Linked DNA regions of Homo sapiens. The protein of the gene in region 1 interacts with the protein of each later gene in a pairwise test. Each region holds a gene or a part of one and is shown on either strand. Other genes may lie near its edges.

Region 1 (6,894 bases):
CCCCGTAGCGTGAGTGTGGCACCATGGATGTATGTGATCTAGGCTATATTTGGGTCCACTTTTCAGGAGTGCTGTTTTTTTTCTTTCATGCCATCCTTTGGACAGCATCTAATTTCATTCAATTGTGTCCGTGAATTTGGCCTCCTTATGGTCTTTGTGCTTTAGAATATGTGGTTATTTCCCTTGTGGTCTAGTAATTATGTGTTTATCATTGTCCCACTTTGTAACATAATTGTGTTTAAGTTGGAGACGAATGGTTACGTTCCTCAAATTCTCTACCTGCCAAATTTGCATTTCTATTTGATTTTTTCTTGTTTGTTTGTTGTTGTTTTTGTTTTTGAGTAAGAGTTTCCTTCTCATCACCCAGGCTGGAATGCAGTGGCACAATCTCGGCTCACTGCAACCTCTGCCTCCTAGGTTTGAGTGATTCTCCTGCCTCAGCCTCCCAAGTAGCTGGGATTACAGGCATGCGCCACCATGCCCAGCTAATTTTTGTATTTTTAGTAGAGACAGGGTTTTGCCATGTTGGCCAGGCTGGTCTTGAACTCCTAACCTCAGGTGATCCGCTCACATCAGCCTCCCAAAGTGCTGGGATTGCAGGTGTGAGCCACCGCGACTGGCCTGATGTGTTTATTTCTGAGAGAGATCTGTTAGAGATATTTGCTGTTTGGGGCTGTGTCAGTTTGCTTATATATTTGTCAGTCTTTGTTTTATATATTTTGAAGTTCGGCACACAAAGGATTATGGCTGCTGAACTGTCTGTGGATTCTGACTCTCATTGGCTACATCTTCCTTTGTCCATTTGATGCATTTTGCTTTGATTTCTATCTTTTTGATGTTACACGATATCTTCGTTAGTATTTTCTAGCACATACGTGTATTTTCCGTTTCTTTATTTTCAGCCTTCAGTGTTCTCTTTTAACAGTTTATCTGATAGAGAGCCTTTCTTACACTTTTTACTTTTTAATTGTGATAAAATATACATAACATAAATTCACCATTTTAACCATTTGAAGTTATGCATTTCCGTGGCATTAAGGACACTTAGTACTGTGCAACCATCACCACCAACTTCTCCAAAACCATTTCATCTTGCAAAACGGGAACTTTATACCCGCGAAATAATAACTTTACACTTCCTTGAAATGTTTTTTTAATCTTACTACAAAAAATTTCACACATCTACAGAAGTAGAGAGAATAGATTAGTGAAGCCCCATGTCCCCAACAGTGGCTTCAAAAATAATCAACTCACAGGTGATCTTGTTGTATCAACACCTCTCCCGACTCTCCCCCAACCCAACCCACCCCTCTTTATTGGGAAATAAATCTGAAACATTATACTGCACCATCTGCAAATATTTCAACATGTAACTCTAAAAGATGGGGACTTTTTAACATAACCACAAACCATTGTCACACTTAAAACAATTAACAATGATTTTAAAATATGGTCCATGCATTGCAATTGGTTCTATTAAGAGATTAAATCTCTTAATCTAAAGGGTCTCTCTCCCTTCGTCTCTCCTCTTGTACTGTGCTGTTTGCCTTGTGAGGGTTTCTTCAGCCTGGATTTTGCTAATTGCATCCCTACGATGTCATCTAACACACCCTCCTGATGCTTCTTTGTAGATCTAAAAAGTTCGACCTGATTCAGGCTCAATAGTAACATTTGTTCTTTCTATTTTTCTTGATTTCTATTGTTATTTCATCAAGACTAATTCATTAAAGGTGTGTGCATAACGTCTGCTGCGTCCGTGACGTTCGCAGCGAGGGTCATTGCTTACTTTAAGTCATCAGCGGGTGTAGTAGAATGGTATTCTCTTTCTGTCCTTCTTCATTATTTTCTAGGCTAAGTCTGTAATGAGAAGATACCCTTGACAGAGAACATTTCATTGGAACTTGTTTTGTCTCTTTATTTCTAAAACCCAACGCAAGACCTTGTTGATTTAAAACAAGAAAATGTAACCCATTCACAGGTGCTGTGATTCCTGATGGGTTTGAAATTATTCCCAATGTTTTATTGTTTGGTTTTTATTTACCTTTCTTGTTTGTTCTATTTTCCCTTACTTTTTTCTTTTAAAGGATTTGCCTTTTTTTTTTTTTTTTTTTCTCAGTTACCCAGACTGGAGTGCAGTGGTGTAAGCATGGTTCACCGTAGCCTCAACCTCTTGGGCTCAAGCAATTCTCCCACCTCAGCCTCCCAAGTAGCCTGGACCATATCGCGTGCTACCATGCCTGGCGAATTCTTAGAAAATTTTTTTGTAGAGATGAGGGTCTGGGTCTCCAAATGTTGCCTAGGCTGGTCTCGAACTCCTGGGCTCAAGTGATCCTCCCACCTCGGCCTCCCAAAGTGCTGGGATTACAAGTTTGAGCCACCATGCCCAAAATAAAGATTTGTCATATTTTTTTTCAGGTATATACATGCTATTTTTATTCTTAAGGAGACTCTTGAATTGTTAGCATATATACTTAGATATTTTCTATCAAAATGCCCACTGACAAGCATCTATATTCCTCCCCAGATAGGATGGAACGGCAATGTGCTCCCTGGCCCCTCCCAACCCAGTCCTCTAGGCGTTTTGTTTCACAGCGTTAATATTCTTACCACTATTTTTTAAATCAACAGGTTATGACATCATAATTTTTACTTATTTCTTTGCCCAACTTTGTATCATCTGCTCTTGTATTTCTCATGGATTTCTTCATGTCTATTTCTGCAAGACATCTTTAAAACAGAGTTTAGGAGCCGGGAGCCATGGCTCACGCCAGTAATCCCAGCACTTTGGAAGGCAGAGGTGGATGGATCACTTGAAGCCAGGAGTTCAAGACCAGCCTGGTCAACATAGTGAAACCCTGTCTCTACTAAGAATACAAAAATTACCCAGGCGTGGTGGTACATGTGCCTGTAATCCCAGCTACTTGGGAGGCTGAGGCAGGAGAATTGCTTGAACCCGGGAGGCAGAGGTTGCAGTGAGCTGAGATCACGCCACTGCACTCCAGCCTGGGTGACAAAAGCAAAACTCTGTCTCAAAAAAAACTGAAAACATAAAAATAAATAAATAAATAAAACAGAGTTTAGGGTAGTAATGTGTCTGAGTCCTTGCTCTGAAGATGTCTGATTTGGGTTTTTTTTCTAGGTATAATCTCTTTCCCTCCTCTTCCTCCTCCTCCTCCTCTCCCTTCTCTCTCTCTCTGAGCCTGTAGTATTTTCCCTTTCGTGTTCTGTGGTATCCTCCTAATGTCCCTAGTTAACAGGACCTCATCCATCCATCCCTGGGGTGTTCAGTGGCCTCGCAATCCACGTCCCCGCCCAGATCCGCAGCCTTCCTCCTGTGACCTGAGTGTCTCCTCCTCGCTGTCCCTGTTCTGTCCCCTCCCGCCCTCACATGCAGGTGGATGTCAATGCGTGCACGCACCCAGGTTTTCTTGCCTGTTCCCACCTCTTTATCCTCCTTGGCTGGTTCCTCCGCTCCATTCTCTGGCTCAGGAATTTGCTCCCCAGGGTTTTTCATTCCGCTCTGTAGCAGAATGTGCTACTGTTGCTTTCCAGCATCAAACTTTTCACTCCCATGGCCTCTGTGTTCTTCTTCCTAATGGGTGCCCTTTCTGCCTGGCGCTCCTGGAGGCCGGGCCCCTCTCCCAAGTGTGAATCTGATGGAAGCAGGTCCTTCTCGCCGGGACCTCATGTGAGAAATGACATGTCCCACCTGTCTCAAGGGGCCGCTCTCTGACATCAGAGCTGCTGTAGAGCGGAGAGGGGCAGGGGTGAAGGGCCACGGTGGTGCAACCCACCACTTCCTCCAAGGAGGAGCTGAGAGGAACAGGAAGTGTCAGGACTTTACGACCCGCGCCTCCAGCTGAGGTTTCTAGACGTGACCCAGGGCAGACTGGTAGCAAAGCCCCCACGCCCAGCCAGGAGCACCGCCGAGGACTCCAGCACACCGAGGGTGAGTGTGCAGAGGCCCCGCTATGTCCACGGTGATTTTTGGAGGGAAGCACTCTCCTGCCCCAGCCTGGAGTGACCCTGGTGGCCCTGCTTATAGCCCCGGCCCAGGGGTGTCTGGCAGGAAGGGGTCTCCAGACCGTCTGCTCCAGGGTCCCCTTTGAGACCCGGCAAGGGGAAGTGCCTGCCACCAAGAGCAGAGCCACATGGTGTGCTGGGAGCGCTTGCGGCTGAGGATGGGGCCGGCATGGGAGGACAAGGGGCTGTGAGGCCGGCAAGGCCAGGAAGAGGCTGGGCCCACAAGCCCCTAGGGGGACGGCTGGGGGGTCCTGGTGCTCCGGGCTGGGCAGGAGGCAGGTTCCCGGGGCCTCCTCTGTGAACCTGCTGCGCCTGCCTGTGTTAGGCCCTCCTGTCTGCATGCTGCCCCGCCTGGCTACAGCGATTCCATCTCCAGATCGACTCGCAGTGTGTGGTGTGTGATATGGTGTGGTGTGGTTCGTGGTGTGTAGTGTCGTGTGTGTAGTGTGGCATGGTGTGCATGTATGGTGCACGTGTGTGGCATAGCGTAGTGTGGTGTGTGTGTGTGCATGTATGGTGTGCGAGTGTGCGCATGTGATGTGGGGAGTCTGTTGTATGTACATGTATGGTGCACATGTGTAATGTAGTGTGGTGTGGTGTGGCACATGCTCCATGCTCCTCTGGGACCCTCGAGCTTCCCTGCCTCCTCCGTGGGGACCCCTGGGTGACGTCTTGCTGTAGGGGAGCGGGCACCGCTGTGCGATTCTGGTCGAGTTGGTTCAGCTGGTGACCCTGGCCTCCCCACAACAGGCTCCTGGAGGCCATTCCCAAGGTCCTGGTGGGAGGGGGATTGAAGCCACGCCCCTGGGTCCCAGGCCCACCTGGCCCCCTTCCCCCAACACTGCACTCTTGGGGCCAGCCCTCCCCATGCATCCTCCACCCCTGGCACCACCCCTTGCACCACCGTCCCCACACCCAATCCCCCCTCCCCTGGATCTGGGAGCTGGGATTCTGCCCTGCTGTCCCTGTCCATCCGGGGCCCCTCTCCTCTGTCAGTTCCTGGGTGGGGAGAAGGAGGGGTGGCATGGCTGCAATGGGGAAGGGGGGGGATGGCCGGAGAGCTCAGCCTGGGAGCGAGCTGTGGGGGCATAGGGGACACTCGCTGTCACTCGCCTTCCCCGTGACGGTGGCGCAACGCCTGCGGGTTTGGGGGCTGAGGCCGGATTCTGGAGGCTTCACAGAAATGAGCTGCTAGAAGCTCTGGGCTGTCTGCCGTCACCCCAGCGTTTCACCATGAGTGAAGCCCAGCTCACTGCAGAATCCATGCCCAGCTCACTGCAGAATCCCCGGGGGCCAGCACTTTACCAAGAGTGGCCTCCAGACTCCACATTTTAGGAAGGAACTCCTTCCCCATCCAGCTCACAGCAGAATCCCCAGGGTCCCTGCCAGCCTGGCACCCAGCGTGCCCCTCAGTATTCTGGGGATGAGTGGGGGAGTCCCTCTGCTGGGAAGAGGTCCCTGGCTACGTCCCTGCAGGGCGGCGGCTGAGCCCATGCCTCGGCCCCAGGGCCAGTCCCCGCCGGGTGCCATCCTGAGCAGGGCCACAGAACAGATGTCCCACATGGCCAGGACCCCTGTGGCCACCTGACCCCGGGGGGGCTGTGGCCCTCGGTGAAGCAGGTGACCGGGCGGGCTGTGGGGTTTGTCAGCTCCGCAGCGTCACTGCCGCTCAGCGTATGAGTTTCCACTCCCAGCACTCAATGAACAGCTGAGCAACTGCAGGTGCCTCCGAGTGCTGGGAGAGGGGAATGCTCAGCTCCGAGTGCTGGGAGAGGGGACGCTCAGCTCCGAGTGCTGGGAGAGGGGACGCTTAGCCACCCAAGGGCCTTTGCCTCAAGGGAGTAAATAGGGGCATTTCCTGGTGGGCGTGGGCTGGGCTGGAGAAGCAGGGCCTCCTGGCAGGGGCTGGCATGAGATCCAAACACTGCCCAGGCAGCTGGACACTCCTGAGCCTGGAGCTTCTCACCTGAACCACAGGGTGGTAACCCCTGCCCCTCAGGCGGCATCGACGTGACCTGCCTAGTGCACAGTGAGCCTGAGGCAACACGGCCACCACCAGGAGACTCCCTGGGGAAGAGGCCCCCAGACAGCGAGGTGCCCATGAAGGAAGTTCTGCACAGGGGCCGCGGCCATCCAGGAGATGGGAGGGGCCCTATCTGCACCCTGTCTGGAAGGGGCATGGGGTGAGCAGGCTATTTGGTCCCCCGTGACTCAGTTTCCCCATCTGTGAAACAGGAGGGGTGGTCTGGCCAATTGTGCGCACTCCAGCTGTCTCTATAGTCAACCGTGTAACTTGAACTCACTTCCCCAGGGCTCCTGCCAGGCCCAGGTCTGTCCACTCTGGCCCAGGCCGGGCCCCACCAGGTACCAGGGCTGTGGGACATTTGCCTCTGTGGATGGGGCAGCGTGACGCCTGTGGCGATTCCATGGAACAGGTCCTGTGTGGGCCCCCCTTGCTGCACTCGTGTCCTGTGTCAGAGAACCGTGGTCCTGCCTGAGGCCATGTCACCGGAGGCTGGCTCCCGTTCCCGGAGGAGAATGCCAGCTGCCACAGGGGTCAGTGACACAGGCATTTGCCCAGCAGGTACAGGCCAGGTCGCTGGGAAGCCCCAACTCAAGGGGCTCTGCAGTGGGCGCCTAGCAATTATGGAGCTGTGGGTGATACCCACCCCAAGCCGGACCTGGTGCCAGCAATTATCCCTCCCATTCTGCTTGGCACAAACTGGCACTGACACGGGGCATTGATTAGGTGGTTGCATTTGTCGATTCCGAGCCCATGTGTGTGGAGCCCAGGCCCTGAGCAAGCACAGAGGGCCCTGGTGCTGTCCTGAGCTGAGGCCCCTGCCCACCCCGGGCTGCGTGTTCTCTCCG
Region 2 (7,034 bases), on another chromosome or scaffold:
GGAAAGGGGGAGAGAATCTTAGTCATCTTGTTCTCTGACCAAGCTAACTGGCTAGACCCACTGTACTGGCATTTATCCATTAGGTCAAAGTGTCAGAATTAGCAGTGCATGGTAGACATAGCATTAGTCCTGCCTTTCAGGGATGTTAAATGCTTCAAAAATCTTGGCTATCTAGAAAAGGAGGACAGTAGCCGATTACGTCACCCACCCAAAATCATGTATTTGACTCCAGAATACACTGCTTTTCTCCAACATATTTTTTTATTAAGTATTAAAGTAAATGTCAATTTCCTAGACATATACAGCTGAAAGCATGCTGATTTACGATACAGTCAGATAAGAACTTTCAAGTAGCTACAGAAAATAGCAGTTAACAAATGAATTAACCAATATCATTAGAAACCAAAGGATTAAAAAAAATTAACCTATGAAATGAACAATTTTTATATCAACATTGGTAGCAATTTGATGTTATGTTATATACTGCTAATTATTTCCATACATATTGTGACATATTTAAGACAAAAGACTAACACCCTTAATATTTAAAGAGCTTTTTCAAACCAGTAAGAAAATAATTAAATGAGTAAAAGACACAATTTACAAAAGAAGTAGGAAAAAAGGCAATACAAACGCCACTGATGATATGAAAAAACATTCAATATCACTGTAATGAGAGAGGCATATTAAGATTAAGTAATATTTACCACTTATCAAATGGTAAAGATTTTTAAAAATAAAACCTAGTGTTGACAATAGTATATTATGTGTGTGTGCATATATATATATGTAGATCTGTTCATAAACTAAAAAAAAAAAATATATATATATATATAAATAAATCAACAGCTTTTCTAAATCTAAGGGTAAAAAAACCAAAGACGTATACCAAAAAATTAATGGCAGCATGATTGTGGACATTTTATTTATGCTTTTCTAGATTCTTCAAACATCCTTAACTACTTTTTCAAACATAATTACTTTTTATATTACAAAAATAAAAAAATCTTGTAAAGGTGCCAGAGAAAATCAGCAAAGTATAAATATGAGTTAATTATCTGTAAACATAACGAATAATTCTGTTGCTACGTAAACCTACCTTAAACTGTTTCAATGTTTGCTTTTAGTTACAACTATTTTCCTTAACTCTCTTAGAAAGAATATGTCAGAGAAGCCACTACATATTACTTACTTTAAATAGTAACATAATGCCAAAGACTTGCATGAATCTCAGGATACGGTCTTTTACCTAAAATTCCTCATGAAGATTAGAATGCACTTTAAATGTTGTAATAAAGTAAATGCCCTTAATGTTTCTAACTAAAGAAGATCTAGCAAATAAATAAACCCATATTCACAGCAAATAAAAATATAATAAAATAATCGAAATACACATGTCCTCAAACTTCAATGTGTCTTGACAGCGTCTGAACCAAAGCATGTGTAAGGAGAGAATTAAACAAAAATGTCTTTGCTACTTACCACATTTACCATTTAGAGAAGTTAATATATCAGCACTATCTAGTTTTGTGATTATTCATACTTAGAAACTCAACAGAATAGATTAGTGAGTAAACAGTATTCAATTATTCTTATTTGAATGTTGGTTAGGTATACCAATAGAACAACCTCTCCCTGCTAGGTACCCGTTAAAATAGATTATTGAAAATATTTGAGGCTTAAAAACTTCCAGAATCTTCTCACACAAAAAAAGATGAAAATAAAAAGAGATGAAAAAGAAGCAAACAACAATTTTAAAACGTGCCTGCCTCAGAACAAGGCAGTTTATTTTAGAATGTAACCACAGCTTCTTGTACAACACCTTATTCATCAAGCACAACTGTATTTTAAAGGAATGCTATTTGTTAAAAAGACAACATATTTAGGATAAGGTATCTAACTCCAACCACAATATTATCATCATGTTTTCCTTACTTCACAAAATACACACATACATTCATCATATGAATAAACATATATAATAAAGGTGAGAGAGTTACTCTTAACCCAGAAACAGGTTCTGCAACACCCATAGATCCAACCTGTCGTTATGCAACAATGAGTCCATCTTGGCAAGATGTTTGGCTGATGTATTCAAATAACCCAGAGTTCTGCCAGCTGCCAGTATCCTGCAGAAGGAACTGACTCAGAGACCAGAAACTGCCCTAGGCAAGCCTCCAGGGAAAGGTGCTTCAGTCCAATGGGAAGAAAAACCCAGCCCCTCACTGCCTGGCCAGAGGACCCGGGGTACCATGGCTGGAGCGACGTAGCTGGCTGGAAATGCGAGAGGGGCAAGGGACACTAAGGTGAACCCCCAAGAGCTTGTTCAATCATACCTAGTAAAGGCCAAACTATTGGGGAGCTAGTAGAACAGGGTTTTGCCAAGACAAGTACAAAAGGGTGAGGGAGATATTAGTATGATTAATCAATGCCACCTGAGGCAGCAACTCTGGGTGTGTCCACACCACACTTCAGTCACTGCCTGGCTGTGACGAGAAGTTCCTTCAGCCACTGCCACTGAGAACTGCATCTTCCAAGGAAGATATTTCCACCATAACTTGTCCTAGTTCAGGCTTGGCATTCGGGACTAAGAACACAGCACTCTCTCTTGCCGCAAACCCACTAACAGACATAATAGACACCACAACATGTGCCAAATTTATATTTACACCCTCACCAGACAAAGGGGTTTTTGTCTTTTCCCCAAGCCAAGTTCTAATACTTCTAAATTACAACACAGAAAGAGGAAAATGGCAGACAGCTCACGACAGCAGACAAGCCCAGCAAGGGTGAGCTGGAGGTCGCCTTTCCCTGGTGGTATTAAGACCTGAAGTTTACTCCCAAGACCCTATAGCTCTGAGTCACCCTGACTGCAGGAAACTGCTTTCAGAGAGCATAGATAAATGATAAAATAACTGTATTTCATATTCCTAATTGTGTGCTTATCTGTCTTGTCTCCATGATGATGTCAGCTCCTTGGGAGCAGGACCATATTTTCTACTTGGTCAATGATTCCCACACATCTAGAAGAGTAGAATACCCTGTACTTGCTACCACATGATGCCAAGGGAAGCACACAAATTAAGTGTGACAACACACCACAATGCTCCCCCAATACACCACTAAGACAGCAGAGCTACAAAGATAGCAAATGTTAGTGCCAAGGGCTAGTGATCCTACCAGTGAATTACATGGAAACCTATGTATTTACATACACAAATTAATACAATAATTCCTTTGCTTTTCTTATTCCAAGCTATGGCTTTATCATCCCCCTTTCTTGGCTTTACTCTCCTTTTTAAGACCACAATGTATGTTCTGCCATACAGATAATATTCTCCTCAAAAAAGAGAGACAGGAGAAAAAACAGATCTACGGCAAACCTCCTACCACTACCAGTGATGCAGTTTGTCCCGTCTCAAGCCTATGAGCATATCCTTTCAGATCTGAAGCCACTTCCTTCTTCCTATCAAGGACAGTATTATCAAGTGTCTTTGTGAGAGGAGCAATCCTGTGCCCCTTCTTGCAGATTGTTTTGTTCTGCTCAAGAAGCCCTAGATTCCTCCTTTATTTTCCTTTCCTTATTTCATTTGCTGCAGCAGCCCAGAAACCCCAAAAGCAGGACCACCAGAAATGAGTGACCTTTATATCTCTCCACACTAACACATCTGAGGGAAACTGCCGACACCAAATATGTGTTCATGAGCTAATGAAGCAGAAATCCTCAAAGGAAGCACCATTTGCAACGGCTGAGGACAGAATTCTTTAGTGGACACCAAAAAGGCTGTGGAACTCCTATGCATTCTAACATCTCAGGTAACATTCTAATGGAGGAATAAGGAGGCTTACAACAAAGTCATACAACACAAACAGAAGTCCGAAAATGCTGGATTTCGCAAATTTCTTTTAAGACAAAACAAACAACTTTACTAACCTTATACCATAGCAGCTTTCTTCTCTGTACTAAGTGAGGCCAGCAAGTAGGAGGCATTTCCAAGGGGGAAAAATGACCACAGGATCTAGCCAAAGCAACCTGTCTCTAATACTCTCAAAAAACAAACAAACAAAAACAAACACTTTGATTTCCCAGATTCACTCTGCAGTGATTCTAAAACTTTCCTAATGTAAGAATCACCTGGCTATTTCTTGAACACACAAATTCCCAGATGACATTCCAGATGCACTGAATCAGAATCTCCATGAGAACACCTGAGCTATTCTTATCATAAGAGAGGTTAGGGAAACACTGCTTGATAAATGTTATTCTCCCACCAGTGCCCACCTGTGCAGGGAGGTATGAAACAAGTAGGGCTAAGATGCTTTACCTGAGCAATCACCCCAGACATGCTCCTCACTGGGTTTGACTCCTTTTATGGAGAGCTGGGTGTCAGCTCAGTAAAGTCTACAGACAAGCATCTCTTTGGGTCCCTATCACCTGCACAGGTCTCAGGACTCTGAGACAAATTTCTGAGTAGATGTCAATGAGGACAAGTCATGAGGAGATGGATTACAGCTGAATATAAGAAGATCTTTCTAAGAATTAGAGCTGGCCAAAGATGGAATAAACTGCTGTGGAGAGCTGTCTACCACAAGAGATGTTCAAGAAGAGAGAAAATATGGTACCTCTTGACTAGAATGTTGTAAACATCAGATCCAGCATGGGATGGACAGAAAGACTAGATGAATTTTAAAGTTCCCGCCAATGCATAAGTCAACAAAGAGGAAAATTTCAGCCACTCCTTAATTAATTAAAAGAGATAGCAAAAAAAGTCTGTGGGTGGGGTCAGCTTTCAACTGATCCTATCTCTTCAAAGGAAAAAAGAACATAGAAACACACTCCAACTCACCATCAGCCTCTCCTATAGAATGTTCTAAAGGTGGGAAAGCAGGAGTCACAGATGCTGTGACTAAGACCTGCCGCTCAGTTGACTCTGAATTTGGGGCACATGCCAGACAAGTTCTGTAGTACAGAGAAGAAATGTGTGTAGCACAGACCTGGCCCTCAAGGATCAAAATCATGTGGCAGAGACAACTCAACACCATGTGATTCTCTCAAATATTTATTCATCATATTTCACCTTTAGTTTTTGTCAGTAGGGTGTTCAGGGGACTCTCTTGGTTCAAAAAAAAAAAAGCAAATATACTTTACTAAATGTACATATTCTCTCAATCCAGTACAAGTTTGCAATATCCAACTCAATGAAAAAAATCTCAAAAAAAATTATCAAAATAAATATAAACTTAGTTAACTCTAATTTTAAAAATAGTATTCCAAAAATGACTAGTCCCCAAAATGATGAAATTACAATAAGGTGTGGCTATTCTGGACAAAATAACAGAAATTGCTGGCCTAGTAATACAGTAATACAGGAAGCAGTGGAAGCAAACTTGAATGAGAGGCAGGGGGTGGATGGCAGTGCCTTTGAAGTGAGATTCCAAAGTCAAAGTGACCTTTATAAATTGCAGAAGTGATCAGAAAAAGAAAGAAAGAAACCCCACACACAAAGAAATTCAAAATTACAAGTTTAAATGAAACATCTGGGGAAGGGAAAAATTTGGTTTTTCCCCAAATGTAAGGTAAGCATGACTCCTGCAAATACTATTTTTAAAATGTCTAGGAGTACCACAGTTGTCCAAAATAAGAAAGTGGCTAAAAATAATTGTTCGACTGAACAAGTATTTATTGTGTGCCTATTAGATACCAAGGCATCATGCCAGGTACAGGGGTAGGGTATGGGCATTAGAATAAACACATAAATGAAAATACACGATTCCTTCCTCATGTACGCATTAACAATAAGCACTTGAGGATGTTATAAGAGTTTTTGTGCACATAAGCGCATTTGTACACGAGATGGAAGCAATGTGGACAGTGAATGAGGCACTGGACACCAGAAGAAAGGAATTCTAGTCTCAACTCTAATTGGCTCTGTGACCATGAACAATGAACATCAGAAAATGGAGGACCAAAACAGTGGCTCTCCTACAAGGTCACCAAACCAATTAATAACAGACCTGGAGAAGAATTCTGGTCTTCTGGCTCCTAGTTCAGTGATCTGTCCAAAATACTACACATATGGTAGACTGACAAAGAAAGAAAAGAAGACCTTTTGGTTTCAAGTCATTTGCAGAGAAAGGGGGGGAAACAAAAACAGGAAAATCAGGAAAGGGTGGAAGGAAAATTAATAGTTCAAATTTAGGCATTCGAACTGAGACATCAAGAAAGGAAGCATGTAACTATGGACTGTGAACACAATATAAAGAAAATGATGTAAAATTTCTTATATCCTTATTCAAATCACGCCTTGCAGTTTTTTACTCTAAAATCATTGCAGACGTATATAGATAAAGGGTCAAAAAACAACATGTATGAATGACATTTAAGGAAAAAGAGATAACAGAAGAAAAGGGAAAAGGAGAGGTAGAGAATTTATTATATCATCTAAATATATGAAGCCCTTCTAAAGGGTCAATGCAGACATACTGCACCCAGATAAACAGAAGAAATGACATTATATTCTATATCTCTTACGTTAGCAATTTTAAAATTCTTGAGTCAGAAGTGTTAAACACTGGAATGACTAAGGTTACATTTGTTATGGAAATTTCTTAAATTTAGAAAGACCTCATACACACACCTGAAGGTAAAAAAAAAATGTACTTAATCAGTGGGTTGCAACCAAGTTACTTGTCAGAATCACCTGTAAACCTTGAAAAAATATGGATTCTCAAACTTACCTTATCAGAATCCCTGGGTGCTGAGTCCAAGATCCACCCCAACAGATTTTGATGTAGCCAGGACACAGAGTTTTTTTCTACCATAATGGGAGAGGTAGGGAGGAGGATCACTAGGAATGGCAACACAGAGTGGGAACTAGATCAATGCAAATTTTGTGGGCAAAATAGAATTTCTGTGGGTGTGATATTTTTAAAATGTATTGTAAGGCTGCTCTGAACCATCCAAGCATATCCCACTGAATTTAAACATTCTCTAAAGGTCCTGAAGTCAGCAACTACAATCCAGGTGAACCAAA

Evidence for each region. Proteins that work in one complex are often made in the same cells at the same time.
Region 2: the proteins of ITGB2 (region 1) and NOTCH2NLA interact in a two-hybrid assay, tested with the Homo sapiens proteins (4 studies listed by BioGRID and IntAct).

The regions. Positions count from the first base shown.
Region 1 is NC_000021.9:44,917,876-44,924,769, reverse strand, and holds the start of ITGB2 (integrin beta-2 isoform 1 precursor), read left to right. Parts: upstream 1-3,870; 5' UTR 3,871-3,949; intron 3,950-6,894.
Region 2 is NC_000001.11:146,218,988-146,226,021, forward strand, and holds part of NOTCH2NLA (notch homolog 2 N-terminal-like protein A), read right to left. Parts: intron 1-7,034.